Homo sapiens: one gene and its partners. The protein of the gene in region 1 binds, or shares a complex with, the protein of each later gene. Links are inferred from orthologs where the notes say so. Each region holds a gene or a part of one and is shown on either strand. Other genes may lie near its edges. A codon is read from its position in the direction of its gene.

The links.
Region 2: the proteins of RNH1 (region 1) and RNASE2 are in contact, whole or in part, in a crystal structure (PDB 2BEX), measured with the Homo sapiens proteins. Residues at the interface, in NP_002930.2 of Homo sapiens: Gln11, Cys12, Arg34, Asp36, Asp37, Arg64, Ser65, Gln93, Asn94, Asp122, Gln148, Glu150, Tyr151, Thr176, Lys205, Trp262, Trp264, Glu265, Trp319, Lys321, Gln347, Ser349, Asn350, Trp376, Ala378, Asp379, Glu402, Asp404, Asn407, Cys409; in NP_002925.1 of Homo sapiens: Lys28 (codon at 5,522), Trp34 (codon at 5,540), Trp37 (codon at 5,549), Gln41 (codon at 5,561), His42 (codon at 5,564), Ser47 (codon at 5,579), Gln49 (codon at 5,585), Thr51 (codon at 5,591), Asn52 (codon at 5,594), Gln55 (codon at 5,603), Val56 (codon at 5,606), Asn59 (codon at 5,615), Gln61 (codon at 5,621), Arg62 (codon at 5,624), Arg63 (codon at 5,627), Cys64 (codon at 5,630), Lys65 (codon at 5,633), Asn66 (codon at 5,636), Gln67 (codon at 5,639), Ser91 (codon at 5,711), Asn92 (codon at 5,714), Arg95 (codon at 5,723), Asn97 (codon at 5,729), Asn111 (codon at 5,771), Leu112 (codon at 5,774), Thr113 (codon at 5,777), Thr114 (codon at 5,780), Pro115 (codon at 5,783), Asn119 (codon at 5,795), Ile120 (codon at 5,798).
Region 3: the proteins of RNH1 (region 1) and RNASE1 are in contact, whole or in part, in a crystal structure (PDB 3TSR), measured with the Mus musculus proteins. The link is inferred for Homo sapiens from one-to-one orthologs. Residues at the interface, in NP_001165571.1 of Mus musculus: Cys7, Asp32, Thr60, Asn89, Asp117, Glu145, Tyr146, Asn174, Glu202, Trp257, Trp259, Glu283, Ser285, Trp314, Lys316, Glu340, Glu397, Ser401, Asn402, Gln426, Val428, Tyr430, Asp431, Ile432, Tyr433, Trp434, Thr435, Asn436, Glu437, Arg443; in NP_035401.2 of Mus musculus: Arg26, Glu27, Lys32, Gln36, Pro48, Thr49, Gln53, Lys56, Arg57, Met60, Asn62, Gly63, Ser64, Cys65, Lys66, Pro67, Val68, Asn92, Lys94, Asn96, Leu111, Lys112, Gly113, Asn114, Ser115, Lys116, Asp121, Ala134, Glu136, Val143.

Annotation. Positions count from the first base shown.
Region 1 is NC_000011.10:503,975-512,212, forward strand, and holds the start of RNH1 (ribonuclease inhibitor), read right to left. Parts: upstream 3,269-8,238; 5' UTR 3,139-3,268; exon of another isoform or gene 2,488-3,138; intron 1,028-2,487; exon of another isoform or gene 1,023-1,027; 5' UTR 850-1,022; intron 503-849; exon of another isoform or gene 453-502; intron 1-452. UniProt on the Homo sapiens protein: Ribonuclease inhibitor which inhibits RNASE1, RNASE2 and angiogenin (ANG). May play a role in redox homeostasis. Required to inhibit the cytotoxic tRNA ribonuclease activity of ANG in the cytoplasm in absence of stress.
Region 2 is NC_000014.9:20,950,332-20,957,370, forward strand, and holds RNASE2 (non-secretory ribonuclease precursor), read left to right. Parts: upstream 1-5,155; 5' UTR 5,156-5,205; intron 5,206-5,435; 5' UTR 5,436-5,440; coding exon 5,441-5,926; 3' UTR 5,927-6,105; downstream 6,106-7,039.
Region 3 is NC_000014.9:20,800,220-20,808,148, reverse strand, and holds RNASE1 (ribonuclease pancreatic precursor), read left to right. Parts: upstream 1-5,304; 5' UTR 5,305-5,352; intron 5,353-5,784; exon of another isoform or gene 5,785-5,900; intron 5,901-6,055; 5' UTR 6,056-6,080; coding exon 6,081-6,551; 3' UTR 6,552-6,921; downstream 6,922-7,929. UniProt on the Homo sapiens protein: Endonuclease that catalyzes the cleavage of RNA on the 3' side of pyrimidine nucleotides. Acts on single-stranded and double-stranded RNA.

The DNA of each region.
Region 1 (8,238 bases):
AAGCTAAAAGCACATTCAGGAACCCACTACCACCAGCTGGCAGCCTGCTTTGGTTGAGGCAGGGATCTGAACAGAGGCCCTAACGGTCCCTTATCCGGAGACCAGACTTTCTCAACCTTACGGAGGGAGGTCTCCGCAGCACCCAAGGCCTGGGCCCCACCCTGGGGAGCCACATGGGAGGGGCCGTCTGGAGGCCAATTCAGGTCCTTATGTTCCGACGTGACGGGGGCGCGGGGCCACCCTCTAGGGAGACACGGGCCACGCTCAGGCGACGCGCAAAAGTTCCCGGTCCCTGGGACCCCCGCCCGCGCCCGCGTCGAGTCCCTCGAACCTGCTAGTTCTGGACACCCTGCTGCAGACTAAAGGGCTGGGAGGAAACCTCACAAAAACACGAAGGGGGTCTCCCCTGCCTCTCTGCCCCCGCCCGCGCCCGCTCCGCCCGGGACGCTCACCCGACGCCGCCGCCGCAGACCCAAGGCCAGAGCCGCTCCGCGTTCCTTCCGCCCAGGCGGGGGCGGGCGGAGCCTCCAGGCCGGGGCTGGCGGGGAGTCCACCCTGGGGGCCGCGCCCGCTAGTCGTCGCCCACTCGACCCTCTGGGCTCAGCCCCCGGGCCTCGTCCCAGCTACTACCCCAGCTTTCCCACTCCCCCCTGGGTCGGGGGTGAAGCCTGACGTCCGCATCCCGTTTCCCACTCTGGCCCCAACCAGCCTTTCCACCGTACAGCCGCCTTCCCCCAGACCATCCCTCCAGCTCTGGCAGCTCCCACCACCCTCGAGGGACCGGCCCCTGCCTCCTCCCACAAGCAGGCCGGATTCCAGGAATTGCCCAAACAATAAAATAAAGCAAACCTGAGACACCCCTTTTTGCTACCAGACTGGAGAAGGTGGAACAGGTTGACGATGATTTGTTGTAGCTGAGGCGAACGGGGCGAGGCTGTGAGGACGGGTTTTGGAGCGCCGCTCGGCCGTCCTCAAAACTTTGGACACACCCTCCGTTTCTGTCAGTCAAGAGTTCTTCATGCCTGAGCTCGGGAAGCATGTTCAAAATCTTTTTTTTTTTGTTTGGTCCCGCCTTTCTGGACCAAACCAATGGATATCTTAAATGTATTTCATTAATGCCTCATGTCTCTCTAAAACATGTAAAACCAAACTGCCCCAACCACCTTGGGCACATGTTCCCAGGATCCCCTGAGGGCTGTGTCACCGGCCGCGGTCACTCATATTCGATTCAGAATAAATCCCTTCAAATATTTTACATTTTAACTATTCTTATCGACAGTACATTTTTTAAAATAAGAATGGCCCTGAAAGATGTCCACCTCCTAATCTCCAAACCTGTGGTGTTACCTTAAGTGGCAAAAGGGACTTTGCAAATATTAAGAATATTGAGATGTGAAGGCTACCCTGGGGTGTCTGGGCGGCCGGCATATAATCATGAGAGTTCTTATGCAGAGACAGTAGGTTTTGAAGATGGAAGAAGGTGGCCTCTAGAAGTTGGAAGAGGAAAAGAAGCAGATTCTCCTTGGGAAACTCCAGAAGGAACTACCCTTGCCAACACCTTGATTTTAACCTCCTAAAACTCACTTCGGGCTTCTGAGCTCCAGGCCTATAAAACAGCCTGTGACAAATTCGTTATAGCAGGGATGAGAAAATAGCTCACTGCAGCCTCCTCTTCCAGGGCTCAAGTGCTCCTCCTCCCTCAGCGTCCCAAGTAGCTGGGACTACAAGCGTTCACTACCGCAACTGGCTAATTTTTTCTATCTTTTGTAGAGACGGGGGTCTCACTATTTTGGCCAAACTCAGTATGTTGGTCGCAAACTCCTGGGCTCAAGAGATCCGCCCGCCTCGGCCTCCCAAAGTGCTGGGATTACAGGCTGCAGCGCACCCAGCCTAATGTAACTTTTTTTTTTTTTTTTTTTTTTTGAGAAGGAGTTTCGCTCTTGTCAGCCGGCTGGAGTGCAGTGGCACGATCTCGGCTCACCGCAACCTCCGCCTCCTGAGTTCAAGCCATTCTCCTACCTCAACCTCCCAAGTAGCTGGGATTATAGGCGCCTGCCACCACGCCCGGCTAATTTTGTATTTTTAGTAGAGACGGGTTTTCACCATGTTGGCCAGGCTGTTCTCGAACTCCTGACCTCAGGTGATCCGCCTGCCTCTGACTGCCCGGCCCAGTGTAACTGTTAACGGCAACATCGTGTGCAGTCTCCGGCTTGCATTCGGTTTAGTCAGCCAATCGCTAAGACGACACTTGAGACCGTTTTCAGATCTTTAGGCTTTCCACCATCCTAGAAGGGGGCCTGCCTGGTTCTAAGGCCCTTCTGAAACACTGCCAAACTGTCCTCGGGAAACGGTGCAGAAGTCCTCTGGTTTCCCCCAAGGCGCGTGGGCACCTTGGCTGGAACCTCGCCCAGTAACACGACGTGCCTGGGGCCCCTTCGTCATTTCCGCCAACCCCGGTGACAACCCTGACACCGGCCCCTAAGTGCCATTCCAGTTATGTTGCTCTCCTCCCCGCAGCCCCAGGCGGCAGCTTCGCGGCCCGGCGTCCGGTCCCCCGGTGGTCCCGGAGCGAAGCTCCGCAATGGAGAGCGGAGGACCCTCCCTCCCCGACCTCGCACGACCAAGACCGCCCACCTTTCCCCCAACGCCCGGCTGTGGGAGCCGTTCGAGTCTTCTCCGCCAGGGCGCTCCTTCCCGGGAGGCCGCTTCTTTGGGGGAATAAGGTCAAGGATTACGGGATTTGGGGAAGCAAGCTCGGCTGGGCCAGGATTGCTTGCGTAGCTCGCTGGAATCTAAGGCACTAGAGGGCTTGACGGCCACGTGAGGACGAACCACGCAGGCGCAGCCCCGCGCCCCGGGCAAGGACTTCCGGCAAGCCCCAAAGGGGAGCGTGCACCGCGATGACGTCCTCAAGGCGCGCCACGTCCGCCCGGCGGCGCAGCTGCCCAGCGCAACCTCGGCCCCGCCTCGATAGCCCCGGACCCCTGCCCCGCCCGACCCCGCCCCGCCACGGGAGCGCGCCACTCGCCCGCGCAGCAACGGCCTCAATAGCGCCAGGCCCGCGTCTACAAGAAGCCCGACCAAGGCCGGCGTGGGCGAGGCCTGGCTAGACGCTGACGCACCGCTGGAGCTACTGACCTCGGGACGACTGGCGGACGGTCGCGGGCCTGGAGACCCAGAGCGAGACGGCCTACTTCGTTCTCGAGCCAGCAGAACGGGTTGAACGTGTCGACAACCCCACCCGCCAGTCAGCGGCGCGGGCGTGTTCGAGCCGGCTCGTGGGCGTGGTCAGGTGCGTGGGCGGGGACTACTGGGCGGGGCTCGGCGCGGGGGCGGGGCCTGGCGGGAGTAGTCTCGGGGTCGGGGCGGGGCCCGGCGGGCGGGGCTCGGCTAAGCACAGTCTTGGCGCAGCGGCGGGGCCTGGTGGGGCGTGGCTCGGTGAGGGAGGTCTCGCTTGGGGGCGTGGTCTCCCCCAGTAGGCGGGGCTTGGTGCCGGGGGCGGGGTCTGGCGGGCGCGGGCGCGTGTGCGTGTTGTGGGCCTCGCACTGGCACGCAAGTCTCAGCAATTCCTGAGAATCCTCGGAGGAAGAGGCCGGGGCCCGGTGCGGCAGCGCCTTGGGGGCGGAATCGCAGGCGCGGGTCGGGCCTTGCTGGGGCGCGGGGCGCGGCCCCCGGAGAAAGCGGCCGCCTCGGGACAGGAGGGACCCGGGAGAAACCCCCCTGGGGCGGCTCCGCATGTCGGGGTCGCGACTCTAGGCGACCTTGGTAGAGGGGCTCGTTTGCGCCGAGCTCGCGACCCCCGAGGGAGCCACGGCCCCGTGAACCACGCTGCCCGTCCTGGCCACTGGCTGCCGCCTTTGTTTCGTGGGACCCCAGCCCGCAAGGCCTGCGGAGCCGCGGCCTCGTCCCGAGTGTTCTGAGCGCGGTCCGAGCTGCTCCTGCGTCCACTCTGCTGCCGACACCCGAGCGTCGCCTGGAGCCCTGGCACTGAGGGGCGCAGGCCGAGTTCCAGACCAGCCTGGGAAACGCAAAGCGACCCCACCTCCACAAAAGTGGGTTTTCTTTAAGTTTTTGACTAGTCCGCAATTCACAGAATTGACATTTTGGCAGATGAAGATTGCAAGTAAGGAAACTAACGGTATCTCAGATTTGTTCTTTAGCAATTTGCTAAACCTCTCCTCTGACTGCCTTTATTAGGTATTTGTTTTCGAGACAGGGTCTCACTCCACTGCTTAGGCTGTACTGCAGTGGCGCGATCCCAGCTCGCTGCAGCCTCCACCTCCCGGACTCCAGTGATCCTCCCGCCTCAGCCTCCCAAGTAGCTGGTACCACAGGCGCCAGCACGCCTGGCTAATTGTTGTATTTTATGTAGAGAAGAGGTCTCCCTGTGTTGCCCAGCCTGGTCTTGAATTGGGCTCAAGTGATCCTCCTGCTTCAGCCTCCCATATCGCTGGAATTACTGGCATAAGCCACTACACCCGGCCTGATCATCTTTAAAGAAGGTGGTTCTGGCCGGGCGTGGTGGCTCACACCTGTAACCCCAACACTTTGGGAGACCGAGAAGGGTGGATCACCTGAGGTCAGGAGTTCAAGACCAGCCTGGCCAACGTGGTGAAACCCCATCTCTACTAAAAATACAAAAATTAGCCAGGCATGGTGGTGGGCACCTGTAATTCCAGCTACTTGGGAGGCTGAGGCAGGAGAATCGCTTGAACACGGGAAGCAGAGGTTGCAGCGAGCCTAGACCACACCATTGCACTCCAGTTCGGGCAACAAGATGAAACTCTGGCTGGGCGCGGTGGCTCACACCTGTAATTCCAACACTTTGGGAGGCCAAGGCAGGCAGATCACCTGAGGTCAGGAGTTCAAGACCAGCCTGGCCAAGATGATGAAACCCCATCTCTACTAAAATTACAAAAACTTAGCCAGGCATGGTGGTGCATGCCTGTAATCCCAGCTACTCAGGAGGCTGAGGCAGGAGAACCACTTGAACCCAGGAGGCAGAGGTTGCAGTGAGCCAAGATCGTGCCACTGTACTCCAGCCTGGGCAACAAGAGCGAAACTCCATCTCAAAAAAGAAAAAAGAAACTCCGTCTCAAAAAGAAGGTGGTTCACACACACACACACACACCCCCAAGAAAGCTCAGGGCTGGAAGGCAGCCAACCTGGCTGTGACCCTCATCCTGCACACGTGAGCTTGGTGACCAGTAGCTGATTCTTTAACTCTCTAAGCTTTGGAGTCTGGATGTGAGGTTTAGAATTCATGACAAGAAGCTGGAAGGATGCCGCCAGTCTGACTCCTGGACTGGTTCTCTTGACATCTTTGCAAAAGCTGCTGAAATGTTCTGGTTTCATTTCATTCTTTTCTTTGCCATGATCTCTTAGATTTGTTCGTGGCAATTCTCATAAGAGTGAAGAAAATGTTTAAAATGGCTGTTGGGCTCCCTTTTGTGACACCTTGTGGGGAAGGTGCCCAGGTATGTATAGGTGCTGAGCGCACGGCCAGCATGGTGTCTGTGGCCGGGCCTCCCTCCTGGACAGTGCGGCCACAGCCCCTGAAAGGTATGTCTTCATTTTTATTTTATTTTATTGAGATGGAGTCTCGCTCTGTCGCCCAGGCTGGAGTGCAGTGGCGCGATCTCGGCTCACTGTAAGCTCCGCCTCCCAGGTTCAAGCCATTCTCCTGCCTCAGCCTCCCGAGTAGCTGGGACTACAGGCACCTGCCACCACGCCCGGCTAATTTTTTTTTTTTTTTTTTTTTTGTAATTTTAATAGAGACAGGGTTTCAGCGTGTTAGCCAGGATGGTCTCGAGCTCCTGACCTTGTGATTCGCCCGCCTCAACCTCCCAAAGTGCCTGGCCTTCATTTTTATTTTTGAACTTACCTGCCTCACCTCGTTATGTCTTTATCTTATTTTTAAACTTACTCAGTTCACCCACTGTGGAATTGGGAGTATATGGAAGTATTCCCACCCCCAGTTTTATATACCGCCCCAGAGCTGACCATTCTCGCTCATTTCCCCGGGTCCTGGCCGACTCGAGTGTGCCTTTCCTTCCGATCCTGCTCCACACAGATCTGAGGGATGCTGCCCTTTCCTTCTCCACCTGCCCCTCCCTCACATCCAGCCCCACCAGCCTACACGTTAGCTTAAATAGGGAGCTTTTACATTCCCCATGAAAGGGAATCCAGGGACAGGCTGAGGCAAGAGACCCCCAGTGTTCATGAGATGCCATCTAGAGAAAACACCGTGGTGCTGAAGGCCTAAGTCAGACCCCGGGGAGAGAGGCACCAGGGTGACTTTGGGTGGAGAGTCCTGTGCCTGTTCTACTTCTATAAATATACTCAGGTCAGGCACGGTGGCTCACGCCTGTAATCCCAGCACGTTGGGAGGCCGAGGCAGGCGGATCATTTGAGGTCAGGAGTTCAAGACTAGCCTGGCCAACATGGTGAAACCCCATCTCTACTAAAAATACAAAAAAATGGCTGGGCACAGTGGCTCACACCTGTAATCCCAGCATGTTGGGAGGCCAAGGCAGGCAGATCATTTGCGGTCGGGAGTTCAAGACCAGCCTGACCAACATGGAGAAACCCCGTCTCTACTAATAATACAAAAATTAGCCAGGCATGGTGGCACATGCCTGTAATCCCAGCTACTCGGGAGACTGAGGCATAAGAATCGCTTGAACCCAGGAGGCAGAGGTTCTGGTGAGCCGAGATCACGCCATTGCACTCCAGCCTGGGCAACAAAAAGCAAAACTCCATCTCAAAAAAAAAATACAAAAAAATGAGCTGGGCGTGGTGGCCTGCACCTGTAATCCCAGCTACTTGGGAGGCTGAGGCAGGAGAATCACTTGAACCCAGAAGGTGGAGGTTGCGGTGAGCAGAGACCACACCACTGCACTCCAGCCTGGGTGACAGAGTGAACCATGTCTCTAAATAAATAAATAATATGTTTGTCTGAAAGTGCCTTTTTAACAAAGTATGAGATGTGTACATAAAGTGCACATAGCGCAAGTGTCGCACGCAGTGGATTTTCACACGCAGCACGTGAAATGGGAAAACACTGGCCCGGCACGGTGGCTCACACCTGTCATCCCAGCACTTTGGGAGGCCGAGGCGGGCGGATCACAAGGTCAGGAGATCGAGACCATCCTGGCTAACACGGTAAAACCGCGTCTCTACTAAAAATACAAAAAATTAGCCGGGCGTGGTGGCGGGCGCCTGTAGTCCCAGCTACTTGGGAGGCTGAGGCAGGAGAATGGCGTGAACCCGGGAGGCGGAGCTTGCAGTGAGCCAAGATCGCGCCACTGCACTCCAGCCTGGGCGACAGAGCTAGACTCCGTCTCAAAAAAAAAAAAAAAAAGAAATGGGAAAACATTGAGGATGAAGTAGCAAATATTTGAGAATTCAACTTGATTGGTGGCTGTTGCAGGTTCATACGTGAGTGGTTACGTAGTGGGTAGTTAAACTGACAATGACCAGCTGAATTTTGGTGACAGGACTGCTCCTAAGGTTTGAAATGTAGCGTATCCTCTGATTCACGGGCTAAGCTCTGCCACTTAGCAGGAGGAGCTCATGATAGAGCAGGTTGAGGGGAAAACTTTGCCCCATAAGGGTTCTTCACTGCAAGTGAGAAGGTCTTGGCTTTGAGCCTCCAATTTCAATCAGACAGAAAGCAGACCAGTCGGCAGGACAGTATATGCCTCTGGAGATCCGTGCTGATGTGGGGGCCTCAGATACAAGATGCCTCAGGGCCCAGGCGTGACCCTCTCCTTCCCTCCTGCACGGAGATGCTGTGAGAATTAGACACTCCCACAGGGCCCTGTCAGACACTGAGCTAGCCTCTGGGAACCGGAAGATATTCAAAACACCAGCCACCCCCCACACACACAGACAAGGCGCTGGAGGGACAGCTGTGCAGCGGCAGAGCATGAGAGGTCTTGATCAGTTAACTCAGTGAGGTTAGGAGGCGAATTTTTTTTTTTTTGAGATGGAGTCTTACTTTGTCACCCAGTCAGGAGTGCAGTGGCGTGATCTCGGCTCACTGCAACCTCCGCCTCCTGGCCTCAAGTGATTCTTCCGCCTCAGCCTCCCGAGTAGCTGGGACTACAGGTGCGTGCCACCACACCCAGCTAATTTTTGTATTTTTGGTAGAGACAGTGTTTCACCACGTTGGACAGGCTGGTCTCAATCTCTTGACCTCGTTATCTGCCTGCCCTGGCCTCCCAAAGTGCTGGG
Region 2 (7,039 bases), on another chromosome or scaffold:
TGTGTTGTTGTATTTTACAGGTTATAAAACAGAGGCATAGCAAGGATGAATAACCGTCCAACTCTTTTGTTGTTGTTGTTGTTTCTTTTTAAAGAGACAGGATCTTACTCTGTCTCCCAGGCTGGAGGGCAGTGGCGCAGTATCGGCTAACTGCAGACTCTGACTCCCAGGTTCAAGTGATCCTCCTACCTCAGCCTCCTGAGTAGTTGGGATTACAGGTGCACTCCACCATGCCTGGTTAATTTGTGTGTGTGTCTGTGTGTGTGTGTGTTTTGTTTGTTTGTTTGTTTGTTTGTTTTGAGATGGAGTCTCACTCTGTCACCCAGGCTGGAGTGCAGGTGATCTCGGCTCACTGCAACCTCTGCCTCCTGAGTTCAAGCGATTCTCCTGCCTCAGCCACCCGAGTAGCTGGGACTATAGGCCCGTGCCACCACGCCTGGCTAATTTTTTGTATTTTTAGTAGAGACAGGGTTTCAACATGTTAGCCAGGATGGTCTCGATCTCCTGACCTCATGATCCGCCCACCTCAGCCTCCCAAAGTGCTGAGATTACAGGCATGAGCCACCGCGCCCGACCTAATTTTTGTGGTTTTGGTAGAGGCAGGATTTCTCCATGTTGGCCAGGCAGGTCTCAAACTCCTCGCCTGAAGTGACCCCTCTACCTTGGCCTCCGAAAGTGCTGGGATTACAGGCATGAGTCACAGCACCTGGCCCTGTACAACTCTTATAGTAAGAGCCTCAAATAGAAAATGTCAGAGCTGGTATCTGGACAAGACTATACAAAATCTATACCCGACATCGCTGTAACACAAAACTTATATAACAACTTCATTTAAAGAGACACTAACCTATATAATAATTCATTTTGTGTGAGCTCTGAAATCTTAGCAAATGCATCTGTGTGCTCAAAATGCAATGGGGATGAACAGAGGATGTTTAAGGGGTACAAATATAAGAAATGATATAAGAAATAAGGCCTAGTGTTTGATAGATCAGGAGGATGACTATAGTTAATGATAATCTACTGTATGCTTCAAAATAGCTAGAAGAGAATAATTTGAATGTTTCTAACATAAAGAAGAGGCAAATATTTAAGGTACTCGATATCCCAGTTTCCCCGATGTGATCTTTACACATTATGTGAATATATTAAATTATCACATGTACCCTGAAAGTATGTACCTCTATTATGTATCAATAAAAAGAAATAAGGCCAGGCGCCGTGGCTCACGCCTGTAATCCTAGCACTTTGGGAGGCTGAGGTGTGCGAATCACCTGAGGTCAGGAGTTCAAGACCAGCTTGGCCAACGTGGTGAAACCCTATCTCTACAAACATAGAAAAATTAGCTGGACGTGGTGGTGCACGCCTGTAATCCCAGCTACTCGGGAGGCTGAGAAAGGAGAATCATTTGAACCCGGTAGGCAGAGGTTGCAGTGAGCTGAGATCTTGCCACTGCACTACAGCGTGGGTGACAGAGTGAGACTCCATCTGAAAGAGAAAGAAAGAAAGAAGGAAAGAATGAAAGAAAGAAAGAAAGAAAGAAAGAAAGAAAGAAAGGAAGGAAGGAAGGAAGGAAGGAAGGAAGGAAGGAAGAAAGAAAGAAAGAAAGAAAGAAAGAAAGAAAGAAAGAAAGAAAGAAAGAAAAAGAAAAAGAAAGAAAGAAAGATTTTAAAAATATGCAATGGGACACGAATGCAATTTTCCAGTTTCTTAGGAAACACACTTTATTTCATCCCTCCTAAGACACACCTCTCCATAATTCCATCGGGGCTCTATTCCCATTTCTTCCCTTTCCAGAGAAGTAAAGGACTTGTTATAGTTGAGGAAAAAGGAGAAGGCTTACTTCTTTCCTCTTTCATGCCAGAAACTTAATCGAAGGGGTCAGATCTACTTATTCAATGGCTTTCAGAGGAGACATGCAGGAGGCCCCACATAAGAGGGAAGGCCTAGGGCCACCTTTCTGAGGTTTAAGAGACCAGGAAGAGCTCAGTACACCAAATATCTTTAGAAATTAGGTAAGTAAAATATTACTCAATTTGGTGCAATTTAACCTGCACCATATTATTATGACAATCTTGTATTACTTTTAATGGCAAAAATTGCAATTACTTTGGCACCAACCTAATAAATAGTGTGCATTGTCTTTCCCATAGATAGCCACTGCTGCATTAGGGAAATCTGTGTGCAGGAAGGTATCTATGGTTTGGTACCTCCCTGTCAGCAGGTTAAGAGCAAATATTGCAAGGGTACCCTGGGGCTGAAGAAATTGCAAGTGTTAAACATTATATTTTTGCACATAAATGCTATGCAAAAAGTCATTGATCAATGCAGTGTACTCAACAGTGGTTTTTACCATAAATGGAGAAGTCTTTGTCTGGGACAATATTTTACAATGTTCATCGGTTTCCAAAAAATGACTTAATACTGGGGCATAATTCTGACTATTCCTCTGAGTGGAAGTGTGCATTGGGTCTGAAAATGTGTCGTTAAATTAGGCTGCAAGACAAGTTATGCTAATAAAGAACCCGGGAGAAGTGGCTTGTGTCTGTTCAAGACAAAATCATGCTGAAGTCACAGAGAATTTTGTTTACCGTTGGCTTATACTTTATTATTCCTGCTTCATATAAAACAGTCTTCTCCCAAAGCTCGTAAATATCAAAGTAGATCTTTTCTAAAGTTCTGCAGGCAAATGAAAGTAGTTGGAAATGTACACAGGAAATCTACACAAGGGAGAATCAGAAAAATCTTATGAGCATGTTCTCAATACAATTTTAGTGATCAGGAGTGGTGGCTCATGCCTATAATCCCAGCACTTTGGGAAGTCCAGGGGGGCGGATCACTTGAGGTCAGGAGTTTGAGACCAGCCTGGCCAACATGGTGAAACCCTGTCTCTACCAAAAGTACAAAATTTAGCCGGGCATTGTGAAGGGTGCCTGTAATCCCAGCTAATCGAGATGCTGAGGCAGGAGAACTCGGGAGGCAGAGGTTGCAATGACCCAAGATCGCGCCACTGCACTCCAGCCTGGGCAACAACAGCAAGACTCCATCTCAAAAAAAAAAAAAAAACCACAATTTTAAAGGATGAATATGGTTGCAAATTGGGCAGGTTATGTATGGTCTGAGTTATTTCTTAAGACACTGCAACAAGTCTGATGCGTCATAAGCACAGATGTCTCCAGAAGCCAGGCAGGTGTCATTACTGAACAGACAGGATGAAAGTCAGGAGGCAGAGATGGAGTCAGAGAACAGCCCCGAGCTAGAGCCCCTTCCACAGAGGCAGCTTTACCCAGCTCTAATTGATACCACACAGCAACGGAGACACAGTGCACCAACCAACATCATGTGATTTTTAAAGATAAGACAGTAATGAAAACTTTTAGTGAACTATTCCAATGTCAAACTTTACCTTCCAAACCAAACATTATAAATAGCACTGTATATGCTGAAAAGAGGCACTGTTTAGCCAGGTACCTGCCCTGGGGCTGCAGTCTATGTCTTTTGCCTCATACTATAGACACTTGAGTGCAAGTCTTTCTACCCAGTGTGTCTGTCAGCATCACAGAGCGGATACTCTACGTATCATTCACCTTTACATTCTCATCACCTGCAAAAATGATCTCCACACAATATACATGAAAAAAGAATTTGCTTCATGATAAAGCTGCTAATGAATGTCGGCCAGAAGAGGACTTCAAGGCAGAGCAATATTAGCTGCGCATTGAGTCCTCACTGGGTCACCATTGTGTCCACATTTACCTAAGGACCCCAGTGATAAAATTATTGCATTTCTAAATGACAGGAAAATTGGATGGTAGTAAAAATTATGTAGATTAACTGTTGGAAGGTATATTATATCATTTAAGGGTCTAATATCAATTTTCTAATCTGAAAGCTAGACCAGATTTAACATCTCTTAGTACTCAGGTCTTACCACTGCAATTCACTTCCCACCTCTGTACAATTTCCCCACATCATCCCCTGTGCCCAGAATGCTCATCTCTTCCCTAAAGTCCCTGAAAACTCCCTGCTTATCTTTTAGGGCCCTGCTGAAATCAAACTTTTTTTTTTGAAGTCTTCCTTGTCCCTCAAGCCAAGTGATTTCCTTCACCCTCGGCGTCCCCATGAAACCATGTTCACACAAGTGTAATACAATTATGTGTCTACAATTACTTTCCTGTATGTCTCTGAGGGCCAAGAATAAATGTATGCTTTGTGTATCAAACTGTACACTTGACCTCTATACTTTCAGGAATACAGTGCTCTGTCCTTAAATGTTCATTTGTAAATACAGAACCATTTTCTTGTTAATATCACAAAATGAAACTTACCAGGAAGATGAATGACAACCCCAGAACACAGTGTTTTGTAGAAAATACCATAGGCTGAAAAGATCACAGGAATACCGAGTGCTAGGTTGGAATCTTTCATGACACCAAATGTTCATTCATTCTCTGCCAGACTTTACAACTGTCCTCGGTGTGTTTTTAGGTTGTGTAACTTTACACAAAGTGGAAGCAATAATCAGGGCAAGACTTAAGAGAAAGTGGATCCAATGCAAGAGGAGTAAAGAAAAAAATCCCTCAAGTATGTGTAGCAGATTGTTTTAATTATCTACAGAATCTTGTGCCCTAAGAAATTAATAGCTCAAGTTTCCAGCAAGAGTGGTGGATGAGATGGAGAGCATTTGTGTGAGAGAGAACCAAGGATATTACTAAAAATGAAAGGGAAGCTGGGTTTCTCCTGGGCAAACAGCCCTCAGTGGCTCTATTTGTTCTAACTACTATGCCTGCCTTCATGTACTTTGGTCATTTAGTGGCCTGCCAGAGGACAGTTATAAAATCTGTGGTCATTCTGCAGGCAGCATATAGTTTTCATCCAGAGTTTGGATCTAACCAGCAAAACTCTGTCTTACACAGGATGACTTGGAATTAGAGTCCTTATAGCAGAAAGAGCAGCAGGGCTGTCCTTGGGTATCCGTTGCTCAGCCAAGTCATCAAATAAAAAGGATGATTGCACAAGTGGACTATGTACCAATCTGTGGGTTTCTGCATGGCCAAGAGCCAGACCCTCCCTCTGGGCTCTGCTGGCCCAACCCACCAAGGGATGCTTTATTTAAACAGTTCCAAGTAGGGGAGACCAGCTGCCCCTGAACCCCAGAACAACCAGCTGGATCAGTTCTCACAGGAGCTACAGCGCGGAGACTGGGTAAGTCAACGATCCCCAGAGCTGGGACAGAAGGGGCAGCAATGGGGCAGCAACTGAGGGAGAAGAGAGCTGACGTTAGTGCTTAGGAGACGTTGCACACTTTGCAGACAGGAAGTAAAGGAAATGGGACCCCAGAGTGGCCGCAGAGGGGCCTGTGGGGTAAGACACTACAGTGTGTGTCATAACCAAGACCCGATCAGGGAGTAGTTACTTCTCTTCTTTTCTTACAGGAAACATGGTTCCAAAACTGTTCACTTCCCAAATTTGTCTGCTTCTTCTGTTGGGGCTTCTGGCTGTGGAGGGCTCACTCCATGTCAAACCTCCACAGTTTACCTGGGCTCAATGGTTTGAAACCCAGCACATCAATATGACCTCCCAGCAATGCACCAATGCAATGCAGGTCATTAACAATTATCAACGGCGATGCAAAAACCAAAATACTTTCCTTCTTACAACTTTTGCTAACGTAGTTAATGTTTGTGGTAACCCAAATATGACCTGTCCTAGTAACAAAACTCGCAAAAATTGTCACCACAGTGGAAGCCAGGTGCCTTTAATCCACTGTAACCTCACAACTCCAAGTCCACAGAATATTTCAAACTGCAGGTATGCGCAGACACCAGCAAACATGTTCTATATAGTTGCATGTGACAACAGAGATCAACGACGAGACCCTCCACAGTATCCGGTGGTTCCAGTTCACCTGGATAGAATCATCTAAGCTCCTGTATCAGCACTCCTCATCATCACTCATCTGCCAAGCTCCTCAATCATAGCCAAGATCCCATCTCTCCATATACTTTGGGTATCAGCATCTGTCCTCATCAGTCTCCATACCCCTTCAGCTTTCCTGAGCTGAAGTGCCTTGTGAACCCTGCAATAAACTGCTTTGCAAATTCATCTGAAAGTGTCTGTGTGTCTTCATTAGCCGCTCTGCTGTCATTTAGTGACAATCTACTCTAGAGATTTTTCTTCCTCTAACCTGAGACTTCCGGGAAACAGAGAGATTTGAAGATAAGAGACGCTTTCTGTCATGAAACAGCACAGTCTTATCCCTCTCCCTGCTTTAGGCTGAGAAGCTGAGGTCTCAACCGATATCTAGCAACTGTCGAAGACTCTTGCTTTGATCAAGCTTTAGTCATCTCCTCTAAACCCTCTTCACAACTAGGTCATCCTGTTGGGCTTCCTAGTCCTTCCTTGTAGAGTCATTTGTATTTATTTTTTATTTTATTTTATTTTATTTTATTTTATTTTATTTTATTTTATTTATTTTATTTTTTGAGACAGAGTCCCGCTCTGTCGCCCAGACTGGAGTGCGTGGCGAGATCTCAGCTCACTGCAAACTCCACCTCCCAGGTTCAAGCTATTCTCCTTCCTCCGCCTCCCGAGTAGCTGGGATTACAGTTATGCACCATCATACCCAGCCAATTTTTGTAATTTTTAGAGAGGGGGTTTCAAGATGTTGGCCAGGCTGGTCTCCAGCTCCTGACCTCAGGCAATCCGCCCTCCTCAGCCTCCCAAAGTGCTGGGATTAGAGGCATGAGCCACCAGTGCCAGACCTAAAGTCAGGTTTAACAGAAGTCCTCCTAACTTGGTTTATCATGAGTCTCTCACCCTCAATATTTGACCAAATTCCTTAATTCCCCCATCATCCTCCATGTGATAACTGATTCCTGACCTACCTTCAAAAAACAAAAATCCAATTACATCAACTTAGCATTGGTCTCCCTAGCCTTGATATCTCCTCTAGGTAATTTTCCATCCACTGACCCCTTCCCGACACCAACCTATAACGAGTATAGATCTCCACTTGTTTTAGTTGTATTTCACAATT
Region 3 (7,929 bases), on another chromosome or scaffold:
TACCATGCTTCTTTTGTCTCCTATAAATGCTATCAGATTATGTCATTGGTTGGAGTTCTCTGAATTTCCTCTAGTTCCAAATCGTGCCTGATTTTTGAACTGCTTTTTTTTGTTTTGTTTTTGCTTTGTTTGCTTTGTTTTGTTCTGCTTTTCTTTGCTCAAATAAACTCAGCTAAAATGTACACTTGTCTAAGGTTTTATTCCATGTAACAGTCCGAAGGTGTCCAAAGAGGCTTTGGTTTCTGGCCATGTCCCAACTTTACAGTTTTTCCAGAGTTATATTTTTGACAGGTGACACATGACCCAAAAGTAAGCTCAGTTGCCTTTTCAAAGTTTTCCTACCAATGTTTACTTAAGATAGTAACCAATTTGTCTATGCCATAATGGGTGTTTCATGGAGAAATCCAGATAATGTAGGGGAGGAAATATCTTTCTTATTTGTCTTAAGTTCTAAGGCGGGGCTCTGTAACAGAAGGCAGATTAAAAAGTGAAAAGCATACACATTTATTTAATGTAAGTTTTACATGGCATGGAAGCCTTCTGGAAATGAACCAGTCTGAGTGGATGCTTATATACTAAGTTAGACAAAGAACAGTAAATTGTGAAAACAAGTCAAAGGGATATGGGCTAGGGCTGTTAATCGTGGAGAAGTGGCTAGGGAGATAAGGGCTAGTTTAACAAGGTTTATTTGTAGTTTTCTCTCAACCTCAGCTGCCCCCATCTCTGGTAATAAGAATGTCTTCCTTCTTCCACGGAGGGTCCCTGCTACGTGGGAGCATTGTCTCCTGCTTTTAGAAAGATCAGAGTGCCCTTCTTGCATCTGCTGTTTTTCAAGAGCTTTTAATTCAAAATAATCCATATGCCAGAAAGGCATATTTTGGGGTGGTATGTTTTGAACTCCTTTAGAAATATCTACTTGAGATCATCTGGTGTCACCAAGCAGCACCAGGAATTATCTGAGTGAAGAGTACAACTAGATGTTTTCCATTCTTTTTCAAAATCAGGGGCTAAATGTCAATATTTTATAATGGCCTCTTTGAATCCCCCAGAGATTTATCCTTTAAAGGTATAGATAGAGTCATAAGCTTGGTTAAAGTAGCTTCTTTGGCATAATGATCTGCTAGAGAATTTCCTTTAGTTTCCATATTGTCTCTTTTTATATGGACCTCTACCTATATAATAGCCACTTCTCTAGGAAGTGGGGGTGCATCTGAAAGTTCCTTAACTTGCTGTCCATTTCTAATGCCTATTTTCTTTTCTTTTCTTTTCTTTTTGAGACGGAGTTTTTGCTCTTGTTGCCCAGGCTGGAGTACAATGGCACGATCTCGGCTCACCGCAACCTCTGCCTCCTGGGTTCAAGCGATTCTCCTGCCTCAGCCTTCCTGAGTGGCTGGGATTACAGGCATGTGCCACCATGCCCGGCTAATTTTGTATGTTTAATAGAGACAGGGTTTCTCCATGCTGGTCAGGTTGGTCTCGAACTCCCAACCTCAGGTGATCCACCCGCCTCAGCCTCCCAAAGTGCTGGGATTACAGGTACGAGCCACCATGCCTGGTCTTCTAATGCCTATTTTCAAAGCATCTCAAAATCATATGCTATTTCAAAAGCATACCTGCAGTCTGTATATATGTTTGCTCTCTGGTCTTTGTTTAGGTGACAAATTCTAGTAAATGCAATACATTTTGCTATCTGGGCTGATTTTACTGCAGGTAGTAGACTTTTTCTTAAGAAGAGTTTAAAATAGGGGTAGCATAGCCTATTAATAATGTAGGGAACCAGAATATGCCAGCTCAATAATTTTGAGTTGATTATTTTGAAAAACAGTAAATGCAGGAAAAACTCAAAAAACAGGGCTCATCATTTCCACAGCTGCCTCTCCCCTCTTCCTTCCCTGCTGTGAAAGAACTATAAATGTCCTTTTTTTTTTTTTAAACAGTGTCTCTCTCTGTCACCCAGGCTGGAGTACAGTGGTACAATCACGACTCACTGCAGCCTCCATCTCCAGTGTTCTTCCACCTCATCCCCCTGAGTAGCTGAGACTACAGGAGCATGCCACCATGCATGGCTAGTTTTGTATATTTTGTAGAAAAAGGGTTTCGCCACCTTGCCCAGGCTGGTCTCAAACTCCTAAACTCAAGCAATCTGCCTGCCTTGGCCTCCCACAGGGCTGGGATTACAGGAGTGAGCCACTATGCCTAGCCAAGTTTCCCTTTTGTAAGAGAAATTTCCATTTATATTCCCATTTGTATGGATGTCTCCCTTTCCTGTGCCAGGAAGAGGAGGACTTAATCACGGAGGACTTATCAATGGAGAAGACAACCAACTTGAATTTGCTTAACAAACTTTACTAAACAACCCTTATATACTATACATTTCCTAGTCCGCTTGTCGCAACCTCCCCAGAAGCTCAAAATCCCTTTCCTATGTGCAGAGACAAAAGTGACTCCATCTTGAATGCTAATCTACCATGTTGACGTCTGATTAACCATGTCCCGGGAATGCCTCCTGATTTCTACTTTATTTACTGTCTCTAGTGTAGAAACATGTATTCACTATAAATCCTGCCTTTAGATCAAAACAACCTTAACGTTATCATGCAAATTATGGGCTATGACAAACACAGCATTCTTGCCTGTTCTGAAGAGTTGCCTTTCATTGTCTCTATATAGCACGTACCCCTTTTCCCTATGGTATATAAGCTCTGGGTCTGGGGAATAACAGTGCTGAGATTTACATGTCTTGCTGCTGCCCAAGACGACACTTCTGGCTATAAGTTCCCCAATAGAATAAAACACGCTTTACTGACAAACTGAATTTGTCTGCCTTTCTTTAGTTTCTAGGCTCCTTCAGCATTTGGGGCCACTTCACATATGTGGCCCTTTCATGGAACACTGTCTTGTCACTTCTGCACAATTTTCTTTGTCAAAATGGCCTATAAACTCTCAGGTTTAATTGCTTCTTTGAGTCTTCACTTCTTTTTTTATGAAGACTTCCATATTCATGTAGAATATTAATATTAAATTAAATTTTTATGCCTTTTCTCCTGTTAAATCTGTCTTTTGTCATTTTAATTTACAGGGCCCCCAGCCCTCTAGGAGGGTAAAGGAAGAATTGATTTTTCTTTCCTCAGTGTACTAACTTCAAGTTTCAATTCTGGGGTATGTTCCATCAATAAATCATATTAGGTCCGGGTTCTCAATAGGAGTTGCTAATAAATCTGACTGACATGCAGAATGTTTCCTACTGAGGTAAGACAATCAAGAGGCTCCCCTTCTGGTAGGGACAGAGGGTGGCAGAATTCAGTGTGTTGCAGAGATGAGTAGTAATTTATGAGAGGGAGAGAGGGATAGAATCTTATAAGAGGTTAATCGGCTGCCTGAAGTGTGCAGTGAGTTCTCAGTCAGGTGTAATGCCTGTGCTGCGTGAGAAACCAGGAGGTCAAGCAGGGAGTCTAGAACAAGTTCAGCAGAAGCAACAACAAATGTTGCCATGGCATCTACTGCCCTAAGACAAGCGGGGCTATGCCTCTGCAACTGGGTCAAGGATAAGGCTGCAGTAAGGGCTTCTGATGGTTCCCCATTGAAGTGCAATTAAAGCTCCAAGGGCTTGTCTAGATTGCTATGCATAAATAGACAAAATGGCTTCCTGTAGTTTCAGGATTCCTAGGGCCAGGGGCTGTTGAAGAGCCTTATTATAGTTACAGAAGATCTGTTCACATCTGAACTGTGGTTCTGAAATCATCTTGCTGGGTGGAGGCCACTTTTGTGCAGCCACGCCCAGTGCCTTAGTGGGGTCCACCTGACTAACCAAACCATCCCACCAGGCGCCCTTCAGGTGAGTCCTGTGCCTTATTTATGTCTGTATCCCACAGTCTAATGAATGAATGAACACATTCTAACTTGACTATTCAAGAGAATAAAAGTATTATTAAAGACTCAGAAAAATAAAATACAGGTGGGGGCTGGGGGAGTAAGGAAACTGTAGGGGCCAAGGAAAAATTCCCCTTTCACCCTCCAAAGGTTTGCTGAAAATCAACTGACAAAAGACAGATTGATAGGAAAAAACGCATACAAATTGATTTGATCGTAGTTTTACACGACACGGGAGCCTTCAGAAGACCCAAAGATAACAGGGGAAAGTGGGCATTCTTACACTTGGATATCAACAAAGTATGAACAGCTGTGTAGAAATATGACTGGACAACAGGGCGATCTAATGAAAATAGACTGAGTGGGGAAACCCAGCAAGGCCTCCCTGTCTAGATTCTTCTTGGCCTCTCTGAGCATTCGTCCTTTTTTTCTGGGTATGGGGGGCAGGACCCTCTCTGGAATGAGGATCTTACGACCTACAATCACACAAGGTAGGTCAGATAATTTCACTATGGCCACTTTTTACACAGAAAGGCTGAAACAATCTGAATACACAGCACGAAGGGATATTTTGATAATTCTTAGAGGTATCCAAATTGTTACTCAGCAAAAAAACAGGTCTCTTTCTAGGAGGGCATTCTGCTGCTAATAAATATGATATTCTTTGTATTTTTTCCCCAAAAAGAATTTGAGATTTGGGATTTAAGTTTATCTTTAGTTCCTCTACTCAATTCCGACCTACAGGGTCAGTGGTTACTGTAGATAAGAACAGCCCCATCCTCTCGATGCCCCCAGAGCAGGGGTGGAGGGTGGGTGGGAAGTGGCCAGAACTGGGTGAGCGCACCCTAGAGGCCTCCTCCTCCTCCCTATTCAGTTACTCCCCCTTTCTTCTCCAGATCTGGGAAGCCTTCCAGCTGGGGGCAGCAGGACAGCCTCCATTCCCCCCGACCCCGCCTCCCATCCCCGGGAGAGGTAGCGTTGGGAGAATGCCCTCCTAGAAAGAGACTTGGGTTTTGCTCCCTAGGAGCCCTGGAATAGCTTTGGCCAGAATTCCCTATCTCCCATTAGAACCTCTCCTTTGCGTCCTTTGTTAACCTCCAAGTCTACTTGGTGAAAACGCCCACGAAGAAGTAACAAGGACTTTGTTCCTAGTGTGCCAGGTTTGGGCACCAGTGCTGTAGTGGCTTTCTCTGCTGCTCCTTGTGCATCAGCAGACAGATGTGGTTCACATAGGAAGAAAGACTAACGTAGGCAAAGATTTGCTCTTTCTTCAGCAGCCCTAGAAAGACGGCGGCCTGGGTGATTCACCACTCCTTCCTCACGTCCTTGATTTTATTTGAACTGAGCTCCAGATGCTCCTCCCACCCTTTTCCTCTTGGAAGCCAAACCCCTTTGTAATCTGTATAAGGTCCACACCCCGGGAGCTGAGTGATTGCAGAAACTGGCCTTCCATCTCTCTCAGACACCAAGCTGCAGATCCAGGTAAGCAGCCCAAGAGGTGTTCTCAGGTGCCGCTTCTGCTTCAGGGTTGCAGAAGAGGGAGCTAGGGCCAGTCCACAGCACTGAGAAAGATTGGGTGATGCTAGCGCTGAAAAAATGTGGCCCAGGCAAACATCAGCTGGGGGCAGAGGGGTCAGGGTGGAACGTGCAGGCTGCAGAGCATCCATGGGACTGGAGAAGAAGGAGCCTCCAAATTGGGGGAGGCCAGCGTTTCTCTCTGGAATACAATGGAATCTTTTATGATGCCAGTGTCAGGCACTGGCCTGAGTTCCCTTATGCTCCAAGACAACAAGGCTCTGTCACCCATGGCCCTGGATGTCGGGGATACAATTTGGTTCATGATTTATTCAAACTGATGTTTCGATGAGCCATTTGAGCACTGGGTACAAATGTATTTTGGATCAAAGAAACTCCAGTATTCAAAGATAGGAACTGACAGGATTTTAGGTCACTTTGTAGGTCACCACCTAGAGGGGAGGAAGACCTCGCTTTGGAGAGTGGGAATAAAACGCTCGTGGAAAAGGGTACACGTGAGTGTCTCATTACACGAAAAACCTCAGGAAGTAGGATGGACGTCTTTCTGGCTGACCTGAAACAGAAAGTGTAAACCAGGCAAGCCATAGGTGGGAGCTGGAGTTCTTTTTCTAAGAGGGCTCTTTTCCTTCTCTCTCCTTTTCTCAATTAGGCTTTTCTGGGAAAGTGAGGCCACCATGGCTCTGGAGAAGTCTCTTGTCCGGCTCCTTCTGCTTGTCCTGATACTGCTGGTGCTGGGCTGGGTCCAGCCTTCCCTGGGCAAGGAATCCCGGGCCAAGAAATTCCAGCGGCAGCATATGGACTCAGACAGTTCCCCCAGCAGCAGCTCCACCTACTGTAACCAAATGATGAGGCGCCGGAATATGACACAGGGGCGGTGCAAACCAGTGAACACCTTTGTGCACGAGCCCCTGGTAGATGTCCAGAATGTCTGTTTCCAGGAAAAGGTCACCTGCAAGAACGGGCAGGGCAACTGCTACAAGAGCAACTCCAGCATGCACATCACAGACTGCCGCCTGACAAACGGCTCCAGGTACCCCAACTGTGCATACCGGACCAGCCCGAAGGAGAGACACATCATTGTGGCCTGTGAAGGGAGCCCATATGTGCCAGTCCACTTTGATGCTTCTGTGGAGGACTCTACCTAAGGTCAGAGCAGCGAGATACCCCACCTCCCTCAACCTCATCCTCTCCACAGCTGCCTCTTCCCTCTTCCTTCCCTGCTGTGAAAGAAGTAACTACAGTTAGGGCTCCTATTCAACACACACATGCTTCCCTTTCCTGAGTCCCATCCCTGCGTGATTTTGGGGGTGAAGAGTGGGTTGTGAGGTGGGCCCCATGTTAACCCCTCCACTCTTTCTTTCAATAAAACGCAGTTGCAAACACCTGATTTCTGAAGCGGTTCTGTCTAGGTACTGTTTCTGGCATTGCCTTCCAGCAAGGGGTAAGAACTGTAAATCTGATTCACTTTGGAGAACGGTGAATGGAGTAATTAAATGCCTTCCCTTCTGACTTGGATTTTAGTGGCTTGAGAAAATTCCTTTCCTTGTAGATTCCCTGATGCCAAACATAAAACTGTTAAGTGTGGGCTGTTTTAGACAAAAGGGAGCTACAGCCTGGGACACTGCCATGCAGGGTGAACTGACAGAGGGGTGAAGCTCAAATACAATCATTCTCTGGCACAGAAGGAAGGCAAGTGTGACCTCAGGAAGATCCTGCTTAGCCTCAGGGTGGGGAAGAGGACTCAATGAAATTATGATCCTAAATTTCCATTTTCCTTTTTTTTTTTTGAGTGAGCTATTACTAAATCAGAAAAATGGGCACCTCTTAGTTGGAAAGCCAGAACCTTACATTTTAGAGCCAGAAGTGACTTTGGAGAGCACGGAATTGAGGGATAGCAAGTAGATTTCAGTTTGTGTACCAACTCTAATTGGAAGTGCCGGTCGGGCGTGGTGGCTCACACCTATAATTCCAGCACTTTGGGAGGTTGAGGCAGGTGGATCACCTGAGGTCAGGAGTTCAAGACCAGCCTGACCAGTATGGTGAAACCCCCTCTCTACTAAAAATACAAAAAGTAGTGGGGCGTGGTGGCAGGTGCCTGTAATCCAGCTACTAGGGAGGCTGAGGCAGGAGAATCACTTGAACCTGGGAGGCGGAGGTTGCAGTGAGCTGAGATGGTGCCACTTCACTCCAGCCTGGGCAATAAGAGTGAAACTCTGTTTCAAAAAAAAAAAAAAGGAAGTGCCTACCCAAAATGCTGTAGCAAAAAATTCTGGACAGTGGTGTGGTTGAACAACAGCCTCTATCGAAGGCACGAGAGGGGGAAGGGTGTGTGTGCCACACATTTGCCATCCCTGACCAAATGTGACCCCTGCCTTTCCGGTGACTTGCACATGGCTTGTTGCTAGTTAGTGGCACAGCCGGGACTACACCCTAGGTTTCCTGACTTCCAAGCCATTGTTCTAACTCAGGAAGCCATTGCTCTAACTCAGGAAGAAAGCTCCCCTCCTCAGTAAGTGCTGTGGA